2 linked regions of the Homo sapiens genome follow. The protein of the gene in region 1 purifies or fractionates together with the protein of each later gene. This does not show direct contact. Each region holds a gene or a part of one and is shown on either strand. Other genes may lie near its edges.

Evidence for each region. Proteins that work in one complex are often made in the same cells at the same time.
Region 2: the proteins of SP4 (region 1) and AVIL purify together in Homo sapiens (affinity purification with mass spectrometry; one large-scale study listed by BioGRID and IntAct). This does not show direct contact.

What each region holds. Positions count from the first base shown.
Region 1 is NC_000007.14:21,473,083-21,476,582, forward strand, and holds part of SP4 (transcription factor Sp4), read left to right. Parts: intron 1-3,500. UniProt on the Homo sapiens protein: Binds to GT and GC boxes promoters elements. Probable transcriptional activator.
Region 2 is NC_000012.12:57,799,308-57,801,734, forward strand, and holds part of AVIL (advillin), read right to left. Parts: intron 1,906-2,427; coding exon 1,837-1,905; intron 614-1,836; coding exon 488-613; intron 1-487.

The DNA.
Region 1 (3,500 bases):
TACTTTTTTATTTTTCTGGCAGCAGTGTGAAGGATGAGAAAGGAGGGAAAGCTCAATTTAGGTTGGTAGAGGCACAGATTGAACAAGGGCTTGGATCAAGATGATAATCTTGCTTGGAAACAGGTTAGCGTAAGAGCTGTTAGGCAGTAGTGTCTTCAAAATTTGGTCATCACTGGATGTAATGAGTAAAGAAGTAGCCTAAAAGATGACATTTTAAGGTTTTCAGTGTGGATAACAAGGAGAATAGGGGTAGCATTTACTGAAACAGGGACATTAGCAGAAGCAAGACTGGAAGATGAAATCATTTTTTATTTTTAAACTTTGATTTATTAAGCATATGCTATTGAGTGGCACTGTTATTGAGTTATTAGGCACTGTTACGGTACTAGAGATACAGCAGTGAACATAATAGGCAAGATCCCTACTTTCATGGCACTTTACCTTCAGAAGTGAGGTGAAGACCAAATTATAAAAGGACAAAGTAATTTAAGACAAATAAGACAAAACTAGGTGATGATACAGTGATATATTGAGGGGAGCTTTTAGATGGGATGGTCAGGAATGGCATTTCTAAAGAGGAGAGATTTGAACTCAGACCAGAATATTACAAAGGAATCAACTATGCAAAGATCTGGGTGCAAAGGCATCCCCACTTAGACTGGAGAGTATATGCAAAGTCCCTAAGAAGGAAATGAGCTTGATTTATTTGAGGGCCAGAAGAGAGGCCAGTATATCAGGTGCAGAGTGAGCAAGGGAGAGACTAATAGAGATGAGCTCTGAGAAGTCAATAGAATTAAACTTAAGTGGGGCCTCGGAGGTCTTGCTCTGGAGTTTGGTGGCTTACTGATGGCAGTGGAAATAAAGCAGTATGTTGAACTTAGCTGTCTGTGAAACATCTAGATGAAGTCAATTAACGGGCTTCAATATACAAACTCAAATATAATTTGCCTCTGTTATTCATTGAAATAACTTTCCAAGTTGTTTAGGCATTGAACAAAGAAATGCTCACAATATGGAGGCTTGAGGAGTGTGTCAAGGACATGGTCAGGGGACCAGAGGGATCAGGAATCTCTAGCAGTTCTTCCCCACCCCTCACCCCCAGACTTAGCTTTGACTTGAAACTCATCTAGCAGTTCTTTACCAAAATAAAGGTCATCTTAAATATTATTGCGACCTTTAAAGTAATGACTGTTATATAAATGTTATGAGAAAAGTAGTCAGAGAATCACGGCCAAAAATACCTGTGTCTTCAGGGGATGTAAAGGGTACTTACCAACTTAAAATACCTGCAGCTCCATAGGGACCATGCTGTAGATTTTGTATAGTGCTTGTTCAGACAGTACTCTCATTTCTAGAAATGCATTTTTTGCAGTAAACAAAGTGTGTGTATCACTGTGCTTCTTGGTACACAAGTAGTTTGAATAGATTTTGTAGCCAAGGTCATCCTTAAGCCATCTAGTTTTACTGAATACATGTTCAAAAACACTGAAACAAAATAATTATACCTTTTGTTTATGTATTGCTTTATAATTTATATAGCCTTTACCCCTGGAAAATCAACTTGATCCTCAGGAACAGCTCTTTAAAGTAGATAGGGAGCAGAAATTTTATGGAAGTCAGTGTTACTATTTTAGAGTTGAGGAAACTGAGGATCTCTGAGTGCACAGTCATAAATTTACAACTCTCACTTCACTTGCATTGCTTTACTTACCACACCATGCTAATTCAAAGGTGTACAAAAATGTAAATTTTAGTAGAGGGTTTGTATCCTTACTAAAACAGTGACAAAATAAATTTTTTAATGTGCATGTTAGTTATGGGTGCTACCAGAAGGATTAACGGTGCTGTGGATACGCAGAGGAGAGTGAGATTGACTTTGGCTGGGAGAGTCAGAGGTTTAATTTTGTTTAGAAAATGTGTACTGTTTTCTTACTTGGTACTTTTTATTGCCTCTTCTTGGTTGCCCCATACATTTAAGGTACTACATGTGCAGCTTTGAAATAACCTCCCCCACCCTTTTTTTGTTTTTTGTTTTTTGTTTTTTTTTTTGAGACAGAGTCTCACTCTTGACGCCCAGGCTGGAGTGCAGTGGCACAATTTCGGCTCACTGAAACCTCTGCCTCCCGGGTTCAAGCGATTCTGCTGCCTCAGCTTCCCAAGTAGCTGGGACTACAGGTGTGTGCTACCACACCTGGCTAATTTTTTGTATTTTTAATAGAGATGGGGTTTCACCGTGTTAGCTAGGATGGTCTCCATCTCCTGACCTCGTGTTCCACCTGCCTCAGCCTCCAAAAGTGCTGGGATTACAGGCCTGAGCCACCACGCCTGGCCTGAAAGAAACCCTTTTATTTTGTATGCAGGACCGGTATGTTTGTTTCTGCTAGCATATTTTATTGTTATTTTGAGACAGAGTCTCGCTCTGTCGCCCAGGCTGCACAGTCTCAGCTCACTGCAAGCTCTGCCTCCCAGGTTCATGCCATTCTCCTTCCTAAGCCTCCTGAGTAGCGAGTAGCTGGGACTACAGGCGCCCGCCACCACGCCCGGCTAATTTTTTGTATTTTTAGTAGAGGCTGGGTTTCACCATGTTAGCCAGGATGGTCTCGATCTCCTGACCTTGTGATCTGACATCTCAGCCTCCCAAAGTGACATATTTTATTCTTGTATTGCCACTGAACTCAGCAGAGATGAATTGGTAACAGTAGCTACCATGTAATGAGCAATTCCGTGCCAGCACTCTGGTAGAGGATTTGTAAATTTACTTAATACTTACATCAACTTTCTGAGGTAGAAACATTCTTTCATAAATTGGTATTTTCTTTTCAGTCCATTCACATACTTGTTATTCCCACACCTGATGGAGAGAATGTAGAACTGTGTGAAAGAAAAGATAATTATAAGGCATTGTAGGCCGGGCACGGTGGCTCACACCTGTAATTCCAGCACTTTGGGAGGCCAAAGCAGGTGAATCACCTGAGGTCAGGAGTTTGAGACCAGCCTGGCAAACATGGCAAAACCCTGTCTCTACTAAAAATACAAAAAAAATTAGCTGGGCATGGTGGCACACGCCTGTCATCCCAGCTACTAGGGAGGCTGAAGAAGAAGAATTGCTTGAACCCAGGAGGTGGAGGTTGCAGTGAGCCGAGATCGTGCTACTGCACTCCAGCCTGGGCGACAGAGCAAGACTCCATCTCAAAAAAAAAAAAAAAAAAAAAAAGCATTGTATTTCAGGATAATGTTAAGCCATGCCAATAGATTTTTTTATTGTTGTTTTATTGTGCATTATTTATTATATTTTTCCCAAAGTGAAGAAGCCAAGCTGGTATATATACTAATCTGAGTGATGAAGTCTAAGCTATATAACATGAATGAATAAAGTAATAATATCTTAAATGTCTTTTTATGATTACAGTGACAGTATGTAGTAATCTTGGGTGGTTTTGCATTTCAAAAACCACTTTATGTATACACTAAAAAAAGTCGAATCAATAAAGAGATGTTTA
Region 2 (2,427 bases), on another chromosome or scaffold:
TGTACTGGCTGAAGGGTGGTGAGTGATGAGGGTATTGGTATATGAAATGAAATCAGAGAGCTAGGCAGGGGCCAGATTGTATAGGCCTTCACATTCTTTTTTTAAATGTAGTGGGAAGCTATTCCAGGTGTTTTAAACAGGGCCGTGCCATATATTTTAAAGATCTCTTTGGCTGTTGTGTGGGGAACGGATTGTAGGAACAGGTGGAAACCAGTTGGATTGTAGTAAGTAGTCCATGATAGCTGGACTAGACTAGTAGCAGAGAAATGGAAGAGGAGTGAACAGAAGCTAGCTGATAGACTGATGTAGGTGGAGAGAAAAGAATCAAGAAAGAACCCTGGTTTTTTTTGGTTTGAGTTCCTAGGTAGCTCAGATGTCCATTGAGCGGCTACAATGTGCCGGAGCTGTCCTAGGCCATTTGCTGAGCTGAGTTTTTTACTCACGGAGAGCTCCACTTCCAACAGACACAGTTCCTTCAGCCACTCACCTCCTTTTTGGCAGGGTTTACATCCTCAGGCAGCTCCTGATTCTGGTTTTTCAACAGAACTGCTATAGGGTAATATTTTGGCTCACTGTCATTAGAATTCAGGGAGAGGGTTGCATTCTTCATGTCCTAGGTAAGATAAGAATGTAGGCACAGGGAAAAGACTCCTCAGTGTCTGTGTGGTTACAGTTCTGAATGTGTATAATATTTAACATTTTGACTTATGCCACTTCACCCTCTGTAATCATCTTTGATAACAATGCTCCCCAAACCTGGCTGCATGTCAGAATCATCTGGGAATAGAAAATATTCAGATTTTGGGGTTGTTCTTGGGAAAGCTGATTCAGTAAGTCCAAGGCAAGTCCTGTATAGCTAGTTTGGCATACATCTTGTGTCTGGATCTCATTTGAATATTGGGATCACATACCTTCTCTTGGTACTTTTATTTAGCCCTGCATTTCCAGCCTTTAAATGACTTTAGGTTGTAGTCCTACTTAAATACAATTTAAAGATACTACATCAACATTAGCTTTGGAATCTGAGTTTGTAGAGCACAAAGGACAGAATTGCCAGATGGTTTGAACACCTGGTGCCATGCACTCCTCCTGAGGTTAAAGAACTGCTGGATTCCTGGCTAGAGGCTCCACTTCTTTTAACCATTAAAATAGGTGTAAATGGCCTAAGTTTCTGTGGACTTCACTGTCAGAAATGAATAAAAATGTCATTTGGGTTAGAAGCTTATTTCTGAAAAATACTGCCAATGACTTTAATCTCTCCTTAAACGGCAGAGTTGAATAATAAAACAAATATTCATTTTTTTGTTGTTGTGTTTTTGAGACGGACTCTCGCTCTGTTGCCCAGGCTGGAGTGCAGTGGTGCCATCTCAGCTCACAGCAACTTCCGCTTCCTGGGTTCAAGCAGTTCTCCTGTCTCAGCCTCCCGAGTAGCTGGGACTACAGGCGCATGCCACCACGGCCGGCTAATTTTCATATTTTTAGTAGAGACGGGGTTTCACCATATTAGTCAGGCTGGTCTCAAACTCCTGACCTTAGGTGATCCACCCGCCTTGGCCTCCCAAAGTGCTGGGATTACAGGCATGAGCCACCGCGCCCGGCCCCATTTTTGTTGTTTTTACACAGCAAGTCTGTTTGAAAATCTGGAAGTCAGGAAAATAAGGAACTTGGCTCTGAGACCTGCTTTTCTATTGATTACAAAAAGTCTTTACATCAAAACAGACAACTATGGTAATACTAAGGACATGAGTTTTGCCTGTGAGCATCTGTAGCATTTGTGTGTTCTCTGGCTCTGGTTGCCCATGTGGCTGGCTTCTCCCAAGAGCGAACCCGACTCACAGCAGTGATTCGCATGATAGCAGCAGCATCTCCCAGCTCTTCTTTTAATTGTTCATATGTTTTTCCTGCCTGAGAAGAAGAGAGAGAAAACACAGGATGAGGTCTTTCTTATAGGGGAGGGACATCTTAGGTCTGGTCTGTGTCTTCAGGAAAAGCAAAAGAGCCAGGGAGTCAGAAGACATTTCAAGGATAAGTAAAAATGAAAATCCCCCCTTTTGGGTCCATGCAGGCTTGAAAGGTGCTTAAACATAACGCACATTCTTTGATGGTAACCCCTCAGTCCTCCCAATAAGATTTAAGAAAGAGCAGTTGAAGGCCAGGCACAGTGGCTCATGCCTGTAATCCCAGCACTTTGGGAGGCTGAGGCGGGTGGATCACCTGAGGTCAGGGGTTCAAGACTAGCCTGACTAACATGGTGAAACCCCATCTCTACTAAAAATAGAAAAATTAGCTGGGCATGGTGGTGCATGCCTATAATCCCAGCTACTTGGGAGGCTGAGGCAGGAGAATTGCTTGAACCCAGGAGGTAGAGGTTGCAGTGAGCCGAGATTGTGCCATTACACTCCAGCCTGGACAACAAGAGCGAAATTC